2 separate regions of the Homo sapiens genome follow, and region 2 is linked to region 1. Evidence: fine-mapped expression QTL. A gene starts in region 1. The other region holds a variant in brackets. All regions are shown on one strand. Distances are from middle to middle.

Region 1 (5,000 bases):
TCCTTGGCTTGTGGACACGTCACTCCAATATCTATTTCCTTTGTCACATGATGTCTCCCTATGTGCCTGACTATGTCCCCATTTCCCACTTCTCACAAGGACTCAGGTCATTGGATTAGGGCCCACCCTAATCCAGCATGATCTCATTTTGATTATATCAGCAAGGCCCTATTTCCAAATAGGGTCACATTCACAGGTACTGAGGACTTGGGCTTGAAAATGTCTCTAGGGGATGCAGTTCAACCCACAACAGCTAATAAGTGGTGGGCCTGGTGTTCTGAACACTCATCAGTCAGCTGCAGAGTGGAGTGTCCATGCCCCAGGGACCAGTAAAGATGACCCATTGGAAGTGTGGTAAGAAAATATTAGAATGTCTATTTATTTTTACATTTCTTCTTTTAAAAATTGTGTTTATATTTTATGATTTAAATGATATATTTACAATAGTATATGCATATGTTCTATAAATAAAAATACATATATTCAGTGGGTACTCAAAATTTTTTAATTGACCAGAGAATGGAAAAAAAAGAAAGGCCATATACCTATTCCACTCCTTCTCTCCCATCTATTAAACTGAGCGTCACTAGCATATCAGTTTCTCTTTTTCACAGTTGCCTCAGTAGAATAACATTCCACTGGGTGAGGTTTGTAGTGAGGTATCCACCCCACCGACCACAGCGTTTAGCTGAAAAAGGTTTAGTTTGACAAAAGAGCAGTTACTAGATCTGAGCCAGGGTGAGAAGTAGCTGGAACCTTAAGAATGAAGCAGTTGGCTGGGTGCAGTGGCTCACGGCTGTAATTCCATCACATTGGGAGACAGAGGCAAAGGGTCACTTGAGTCCAGGATTCAAGACCAGGCAAGACCTCATCTCTACAAAAAAAAAAAAAGAAAATTTAGCTGAGTGCAGTGGCGCGTGCCTATGGTCCCAGCTACTCAAGAGGCCAAGGTGGGAGGATTGCTTAAACTCAGGAGTTCAAAGCTGCAGTGGGCTATGATCATGATACTGCACTTCAGCCTGGGTGACAGAGTGAGTCCCTATCTCTATTGAAAAAGAAAAAAAGAAGCAATTTAACAATCTTTATGTATTTCAGTAACTTTTCTCTAATTGTCAGTTTTCTTTTTTATTTTTTGAGACAGAGTCTTGCTCTGTTACCTAGGCTGTAGTGCCATGGCATGATCTTGGCTCACTGCAACCTCTGTCTCCAGGGTTCAAGTGATCCTTCTACCTCAGCCTCCTGAGTAGCTGGGACTGCAGGCATGTGCCACCATACCTGGCTACTTTTCTGTATTTTTTTTGTAGATACTGGGTTTCACCATGCTGCCCAGGCTGGTCTCGAACTTCGGAGCTCAAGCCATCTGCCTGCTTTGGCCTTCCAAAGTGCTGGTATTACAGGCATGAGCCACCACTCCCAGCCACATAATTGTCAGTTTCTTTTAATACTTCAGACAGAACCAGTGTTTAATGTAATTAGGTATAAAGACATACTGTTAATATTATAAACAATTTGATGCCATTTATGGGGGAGGAGGGAAGGCACAGAATTTGGAATGTTTTGAAATATAAGTTTCCAAAAGAGGAGAGCCACTGCCAACCAGAAGTAAAGTGATGATTACACCTCCATTCTTACCACATGAATTTATGTATGATACAATCCCAAGATCCAGCCTCCAACCCCCACATGTACCTATATGTTTCCAGGAATTGTTTTGGGATCTCTAAGGGAAGCCAGCTGATATGCTCACAGGTAAACAAACTTTAAAAAGTTGATAACATGCATTTCAAAATCCATTTGTTGATAGATTTTTAAAATTGAGGAGTCAATATAAACAAGGTAAAATGTATAAATTTAAGAAGATATTCAGATGTCCATGGAAAATAATTGTTCAGAAGAGCAAAGGATAGTATAACATTAAATGAGTCATGGTGTCTTTTTGACATTCCTGATTTTTTGTATTATTATTATACTTCAAGTTCTAGGGTACATGTGCACAACATGCAGGTTTGTTACATAGGTATACATATGCCATGTTGGTTTGCTGCACCCATCAACTTCTGACTTACATTAGGTATTTCTCCTAATGCTATCCCTCCCCCCGGCTCCCACCCCCTCCCCGACAGGCCCTGGTGTGTGATGTTCCCTGCCGACATTCAGGATATTTTGTTGGTTGTTTAACTCTTCAAAAACTTGACATAAGGGTCTATTGATTGTGGAGGAACTGATCTCCTTCTCATGGGTTCTTTGAGCTCCTGTGTGGGCATAAGTATATCTTTGTTATAATTTGTTCCACCTGTGCCTGTCAATTTCTTTCCACTTGCCTCCTCCCGTGACATTCTGGCTCATGTTTCTTCATAAAGCTCTAAGCCAGTTATTAATAACAGACCAGTGAGCCTCCTGATCCACCAAGACCATATGGTGTTTTTCATAAAAGAGAGAGATCATTCCCTTGACTTTGGACTTCGCTTATTGAACCCCTGGACAGTAAGTGTTTTTTTTTTGTTTGTTTTGTTTTGTTTTTTAATGTAGCATTTTAAGACGTTGATTTTGGAGGAAAGTTTAGTGTGACTCTAAAGTTTATGTGCTTCTGATAGAGGGAGAACATAGTAGGCTAAAATTCACTTAGACTCATAAAGCCTATTTCCTATTCCCTGCAGCATCTCTCTGCTTTTTATAAGGCTGATTATAAAGAGAGACCAATGAATTAGATTTCTACTCCTCTCATTTTCTTTTGGTTAAATAAAGGCAGGAGGAGAAGCAAAGGATTAACGATATTTAAACTACTTGACCAAGACCTGTGGCTGCAGCTTGACCTGTCTCCTTGTATTTTCTCTCCAAATAGAATTCCAGTGATTTCAAAGAGAATTTTCACATATGAAAAGTATATGTAGGGGATTGGGGGGAGGAGTAGTTGGACAAGAGACCTGGGCACTTTTGTTTTTTTCCCCCTTGTTATAGGTTTGGATCAGAGAGGGCACCTGTCTTGTTCCATGGATTCATTCCTTCCTTGTTTTTTAGCCAGAGGCTTTCTTTGTCTTTGCAGCCTTCTTTATGCTGGGTGCTTCTGAGAGTCCTTCAAAGTAGGTCACTATGTTTTCTGTCTAGAAAAGGGGGACCCTGAAGCCCAGAAAGGCCAATGCCCCGCTTGGTTCTCTTGAGCAGGGTTAAAACCTGACACTCCAATCCTTCTTCAAGACCACAGACTAATATAGCTTTCTGCTTTGGTTATGTATGTTCAATTCTTGAACATGTGCACCAGGCTTCTAAATAAAATGTGTAAGGGAAGCATGACAGGGAACTGGAAGGAGGCAGATGTGGTCTTGTTGTTGAGCCCTGGCTTGGACCACATACAAGCTGTGTGATCCTAAGAAAGTACTCAACCACTCTGAGCCTCAGTTTGCTCATTTGTAAAATGAGAATCATAGTCTCTTTTACAACGTGGTGGGGTTTACTCAGTGTATATAAGAAGCCAAGTATAGTGACAGTGACTGTTATTTTAACAAATTTATAAATTCCTTCTTTGAATTTTTCCTGAATCTTCCTAATTATCTCTCATTTGTTTCCAATTTAAATCCAGAGCCTCCAAATATGGTTTTTGATGGGAAACATGAATTTAAACTGTAGAGGCGATATCTGACTTCTACTACTTTTAGTAACTTCATTTTTAGAATAGTGTAAACCATGCAAATGCTGAGGACAGGTGGATTGGAGGATGGTATATTGTTAGCAATCAAGACATTAAGTCTACAGCTAAGATCAGCGATGATGAGAAACCTCCCCAAACAACTTCAAAATATAAACTATTATTTCCATAAACGTATGTGCTCTATTATAATCAGCATTCTAACATTTTTCTTTTTGCTCTGTCTTTCTATGTTTCCAAAAGACTGGTTTCCACCCTTGCCACATTAGATTCTGTGTGTCTGGATAAGACAGAAAGAAGGATTGTCTCAATACCTGCTTTCCAAAGTGTTGCTCTGTAACTCAGGAAATATGATTGGATTTTTGTTTTCCTCTGTAAACTTTAATTGTGCAAATATGTATTTAATTCCTACCATGTGCAAGACACCATGTGCTAACCTAAAACGGGGTCTATAAAAGTCAGAATGGGCTTACTCATGGTTCAGTACTCCTCCTTGGGTATCACTTTTTTTTTTTTTTTTTTTTTGAGACAGAGTCTTACTCTGTCACCCAGGCTGGAGTGCAGTGGCTTGATATCACCTCACTGCAATCTCCACCTCCCAGGCTCAAGTGATTCTTCCACCTCAGCCTCCCGAGTACCTGGGACTACAGGTGTGCACCAACATGCCCAGCTAATTTTTTGTTATTATTTTTTTTTAGTAGAGACAGGGTTTTGCCATGTTGCCCAGCCTGGTCTCAAACTCCTGGGCTCAAGTGAACCACCGCCTTGGTCTCCCAAAGTGCTGGAATTATAGGTGTGAGCCACCGCACCTGGCCAAGTATCACCTTCTAAGTAATGACTTTGTGAAGAATAGAAGAGCAACACCTTAAAGTCATACCTCATCTGCCCTATGGAAAAAAATTGTCATTAAGCACTTACTTTGTTCCAAGCTCTGTGGAAAATGCTAGAGATATCATTTCTGCTCTAAAGGTGGTCATAGTCTGTCATTTAAACTTGAAATTCTATTCTCCAGCCTAACCATCTATTTTCAGCTAAACTTGACTCCAAAGAACAATCAGCTTGTTTCAGAAATCAGATCTGCACCTAAAAACATAAAGACATTGCCACCAGTGAATTTATACCAAGGAGTGTGTGTTGCAGGCCAAGTAGGCAGTTTAAAAGGTTTTGCCAAATGCCTTTGAATACTCAAAAAAGTCCAGAGATTTCCCCACTCCCCTCCATTCACCAACTCCAAATGGGAATGACACTCATTTGGATATCTGAGTTCTGCAGGTCAAAAAACACAAACAAGCCCCCCTAGTCCCATTTCTGCATCCTGCACCCGTTTCTGCATCCTGCACCCATTTCTGCATCCTCG
Region 2 (5,536 bases), 40 kb before region 1:
CTCACCACCACTTGTTACCTTTTTTTTTCTTTTATACAACCTACAAATTGGGAGAAAATTTTTGCAACCTACTCATCTGACAAAGGGCTAATATCCAGAATCTACAATGAACTCAAACAAATTTACAAGAAAAAAACAACCCCATCAAAAAGTGGGCGAAGGACATGAACAGACACTTCTCAAAAGAAGACATTTATGCAGCCAAAAAACACATGAAAAAATGCTCACCATCACTGGCCATCAGAGAAATGCAAATCAAAACCACAGTGAGATACCATCTTACACCAGTTAGAATGGCAATCATTAAAAAGTCAGGAAACAACAGGTGCTGGAGAGGATGTGGAGAAAGAGGAACACTTTTACACTGTTGGTGGGACTGTAAACTATTTCAACCATTGTGAAAGTCAGTGTGGTGATTCCTCAGGGATCTAGAACTAGAAATACCATTTGACCCAGCCATCCCATTACTGGGTATATACCCAAAGGACTACAAATCATGCTGCTATAAAGACACATGCACAGGTATGTTTATTGTGGCACTATTCACAATAGCAAAGACTTGGAACCAACCCAAATGTCCAACAACGATAGACTGGATTAAGAAAATGTGGCACATATACACCATGGAATACTATGCAGCCATAAGAAATGATGAGTTCATGTCCTTTGTAGAGACATGGATGAAATTGGAAATCATCATTCTCAGTAAACTATCGCAAGGACAAAAAACGAAACACCACATGTTCTGACTCATAGGTGGGAATTGAACAATGAGAACACATGGACACAGGAAGGGGAATAACATCACACTCTAGGGACTGTTGTGGGGTGGGGGGAGGGGAGAGGCATAACATTAGGAGATATACCTAATGCTAAATAACGAGTTAATGGGTGCAGCACACCAGCATGGCACATGTATACATATGTAACTAACCTGCACATTGTGCACATGTACCCTAAAACTTAAAGTATAATAATAATAATAATAAAAATGAATAAGAAAAAAAATAATAATGGCCAACTTAACAGTTATGAGGTGATATCTCACTGTGGTTTTGATTTGCATTTCCCTGATGGTTAGTGGTGATAATCGTCTTTTCATATATCTATTAGCACATTTGTGTATCTTTTTTAGAGAAATGTGTATTCAAGTTCTCTGTGCATTTTTTCATTGGACTATTTGAGTGTGTTTGTTTGCTTTGAGTCATAGGAGTTACTTATGTATTTCGCATATTCACCCCATACCAGGTATATGGTTTGCAAATATCTCCTCCCATTCTATAGGTTGCCTTTTCAGTCTGTTGACTGAAAGTTTCCTTAGCGCAGACACTTTTTAGTTGAATGTAGTCCCACGTATTTGTTTTTGCTTTTTTTTTTTGTTGCCTATGTCATATCCAAGAAATCATTGCTAAGATCAATGTCAGGGAGCTTTTCCCCTATTTTCCTTCTAAGAGTTTTATAGTTTAAGGTCTTATAGTTAAGTCTTTAATCCATTTTGAGTTGACTTTTGTATATAGTGTAAGAGATAAGGTCCAGTGTCACTCCTCTGCATGTGAATATCCAGTTTTCCCAACACCATCTGTTGAAGAGACTGTTCTCTTTCCCCGTTGTGTATTCTTGGTGCCCTTTTTGAAGATCAGTTGACCATATACGTGTGAGTTTATTTCTGGGCTCTCTGTTCTATCCTAGGAATTAACATTTATTTCCCTTGTTATCCACACCATTTAGTGAGCCCATCATTCTTTTCATCTGTTTGTATTTTTGTGGGTGATAGAGAACTACTGCGATTTAAAACCTCCTAGATAGTTGAAGACACCAGATAGTTGAGCTTAAAATGATACTTAATTTGTTGTTATATTTTAGGTCTATCATATGCAAGTCACACGGTTGGTTTCACGCCACCAACTTCACTGACTAGAGCTGGAATGTCTTATTACAATTCCCCGGGTCTTCACGTGCAGCACATGGGAACATCCCATGGTATCACAGTAAGTGTCCGTGGGGTAGGAAGCAGCACTTTACTCCTGAAAGTGGTACCGACTGGTGTTCTGGAGAACAGGATCGGTGCCCTTAGACATTTGCCCTTCTTCCTGCCTCCTCCATCCGTTCACCTTGAAACTGTAGAGACTTAAACAGTTTGATACCAAATTCTGGTATTGAAACTAAAATCCTTCCCAGGAGACAAAACTTTAACTTCACTTCCTATGAAAAATTACCCTTTGTGAAATATAATTTGAACTCTGGCCAGTGCTTTGATTGAACTCTGGCCAGCTCCTTGCATTATTGTTGGTTGCCATAATGTCTAAAGATATTTATTGTCTGCACCTTCACAGTTCACTGACCTTCAGTATTCTTCCTGAAGTTAGCCTTGTTTGTAATGTTACTCAGAATTTTCTCTCCTCGAATTACAAGGAAGCTTAAGTGCATCTGGTTCCAACTCTACCCAAGGGAGTTTTTTCTTTAGAGTCGGCAATATAGTTGACTAATAGAGCCATTAGAAATGTAGCTAGTAGAGTGAGAGTATTATTAAGGGTATTTCCAATAACAGAAATACCAATATTTCAAAGAATAAATTATAATATTTTAAAGAAGAACCCTATTCTAAGAATGCACTTAAGGTATTTCTGAAGCTGTTTGGCCAGTTTGATGGACTTTATGTAAAAGTAGGAACTTTTTTTTTTTTTTTCCTCACTCTGTCATCCAGGCTGGAGTTCAGCAGCATGATGTCTGCTCACTGCAACATCCGCCTCCGGAGCTCAAGGGATTCTCTTGCCTCAGCCTCCCGAGTAGCTGGTATTACAGGCACACGGCACCACACCTGGCTGCTTTTTGTATTTTTAATAGAGACGGGGTTTTGCCCTGTTGGCCAGGCTGGTCTCGAACTCCTGGCCTCAGGTTATCCACCCACCTCTACCTCCTAAAGTGCTAGGATTACAGGTGTGAGCCACTGCACCCGGCCTCAAACATAGAAACATTTCTGTTGAGCTGTATCTTTCAGGATGTGGACAACTTATTGGAGATAAGCAATAGAGGGAATTGGTGACACACACGGAAAGAAAGATTTAAGGGGATATTTTACAGCTCTCGTTGAAGGACCCAAGTCCAGCAGTTTGTTCAACACAAGTTGTGCAGTAATTTTATGTAGCTTTTTCATAGGTGGAAGTGTAAACACTGCCTTATTTAAATTTTATTACTAGTTCAGAAACCAGTAGGGATGAAGAAAGAAATCCCTGGTTTCTTGTCTTTGTTGGTTAGTGTTTGATTAGCCCCAGTGCCAAGTCAGGCTGTGTTAGGTAGAATGAGATCCACCTGTACCTAGACTGACTTGCTGTTCCTGTCCCCTCTGCAGAGGCCTTCACCACGGAGAAGCAACAGTCCTGACAAATTCAAACGGCCCACGCCGCCTCCATCTCCCAACACACAGACCCCAGTCCAGCCACCTCC[G/A]CCTCCACCTCCGCCACCCATGCAGCCCACGGTCCCCTCAGCAGCCACCTCGCAGCCTACTCCTTCGCAACATTCGGCGCACCCCTCCTCCCAGCCTTAATGCATGAGCTTAGTCTGAATTTCAAGTTGGGACTCATCCAATGGAGCCGTCTACTCAACGCCAAAGGCTTCCTTCTCTGGCATATTTGGATATGACTTATTTGCACTGAGGTTATCTAGGCTTCACTATCCATTGTGTTGTAAATGTTTGTCAGAAATGCAGCCAGTGTTGTGGGTCTACAACACTAACCAGACGACTTTTTCCATCAGTGTTTTACTTGAATCTTCATGTACGTCCATTCCCTGGCTGGAACCTTCGCTGTTTGGTATTTGGTATTTCAGCAGCAGTGTGCAATTTTTGCTTGGCCCAGAGCTTCATTCTCCTGGCTTTTAGGTTTGTAAAAGAAAAAGGGATATCTTTTTTATATTTTTTTCCATGAATCTGCAGAAAATTACTGAGCTGTTGTTACCCTCCTCTCATTATAATAGTGTTTACCAAACATACCAATAATTCAGCACTACAATTCAGACCTTTGAAAATCTGGCTTTCAGTGTAGAACAGAAAGTTAGATGAATCAGTGCCCAAGACATATTTTCTGTTTAACAGAACTTTCTACAGATACATTTTTTACAGGTTATTTTCATTGTGTTATTGACATCCATGTCTCTCGTAAAACAGATGGCCCAAAGTAATGAATCATGTGGCTGTACCTTCTCCACATAAATGGGATGGATAATTATCGTATATTAAGATGTGATTCTCTTTTTTATCCTTAATGTTAATCTACTTAACCTGGCCCCCTCTAACATGAGTCGATAAATGTTGTCCTACTCACCGGTGGTTTCAATGGCTAATTAGAATGTGTTATTTGATTTCTGCTGCAGAAGGCAGTGTGATTGTAACAAAAACAATGCGGCTTCCCCCTTTCGTACTTCATTTGTGTTCTCTTAAAATAGAGTTTGAACAAATATTTTAAAGGTGCAAAATACCATTAGAAAATACTATTTGAAATGGACATTATCGCATTATCTTGGCATAATGGCCAGAAAATATTGTATTGCTTGGCAGAAAAGAAAATAAGGTCTAAAGGAAAGTAGCACATTAGCATTGATGGCTGTTCATTTCACCCAGTATAAGCAAGTGCAGTGTACAAAGAAGTATATTCTGAATACATTATTTCCATTCATTTAGCACAAATAAATCATTTGGTTTCACTTTGCAGTGGAACACTGAGTCACTCTTTTCTTAACACGTGCAACATCTTAATTTTTGTTTTTCAGCAGTTGCTGTTTTGTACTTTGGTAGTAAAGTGATTTTTACCACCTGTGTTTGCATATTTATATATGCTGTGGATGAAAATAACTTACTAGAGAATGTATATTTTATGACAAGAATGTGTATCTGTTGGATATAATCAGAGAACTGAAAAGTAATTTATCAGTAATTTTTAAGAGTCCATGTTTTGTGACAACCATCTCTAATAGCCAACTCTTTATTAAACACACTCCTAAAAATAAGGAACCATGACATTGTAGATATTTAATATTGTACAGTATAGAAACCTCCATTTTTGCCTTCGAATGCATATTTAAGAGTTAACAGAATGAAAAAAAAAAGTCTTGTTGGATAATAGTGTTTGACTAGCGTTTTAAGAACTTGAGAGTAAAAGCAACAATAAGATTTTTTCACCTCTTCCTGCTTCCACCCCCAAACTGAGAACATCACTCAATTGTTTGGAAGAAACTGTAGGTCTATATAAATTTTATTTATAATGTATGTGTAATATACATAATCATAATACAGTTCTCAGATGCAGGGAAGAAGTTTGGCATTTAATCATTGAGGCTTTAGGTTTTTGATGTGATCAGACTGGGCCATGTCAAACCCGGAATTTTCACCAACAGTTCACTCACCCTCCTGGTACATTGCCATTCCAAGGAATTCTGAGAGTAGGCAAACAAATTTTGCCTTCATGGTACAGTTCTCAGTTTTTCTTATAGGAGAAATATGGTATATGTTTATAAGAATCTTTTATGAGATTATAGATTTCAA

Which allele goes with the higher level. Alleles are on the strand shown, and positions count from the first base shown. SD is a standard deviation of normalised expression in the study named.
With allele G in place of A in region 2, the expression in nucleus accumbens of the gene that starts at base 2,383 in region 1 is lower (moderate effect, 0.48 SD a copy in GTEx).

The links. PIP is the estimated chance that this variant, and not a neighbour inherited with it, causes the effect. A credible set is the group of variants that fine-mapping cannot tell apart.
Region 2: its variant is the best candidate, but not a certain one, in a credible set for the expression of MRLN in nucleus accumbens (GTEx, PIP 0.90).

The regions. Positions count from the first base shown.
Region 1 is chr10:59,750,838-59,755,837 of GRCh38, reverse strand. MRLN (myoregulin) reads left to right here and starts at 2,383. Exons shown (of 3, transcript NM_001304731.2): 1 at 2,383-2,484.
Region 2 is chr10:59,790,925-59,796,460 of GRCh38, reverse strand. It overlaps CCDC6 (coiled-coil domain containing 6), which reads left to right. Exons shown (of 9, transcript NM_005436.5): 8 at 1,864-1,988; 9 at 3,350-5,536. The coding sequence ends at 3,544. Among named protein-coding and RNA genes, the nearest start is that of MRLN, 40 kb to the right of the region's middle. The variant G/A (reference allele first, on the strand shown) is at 3,445.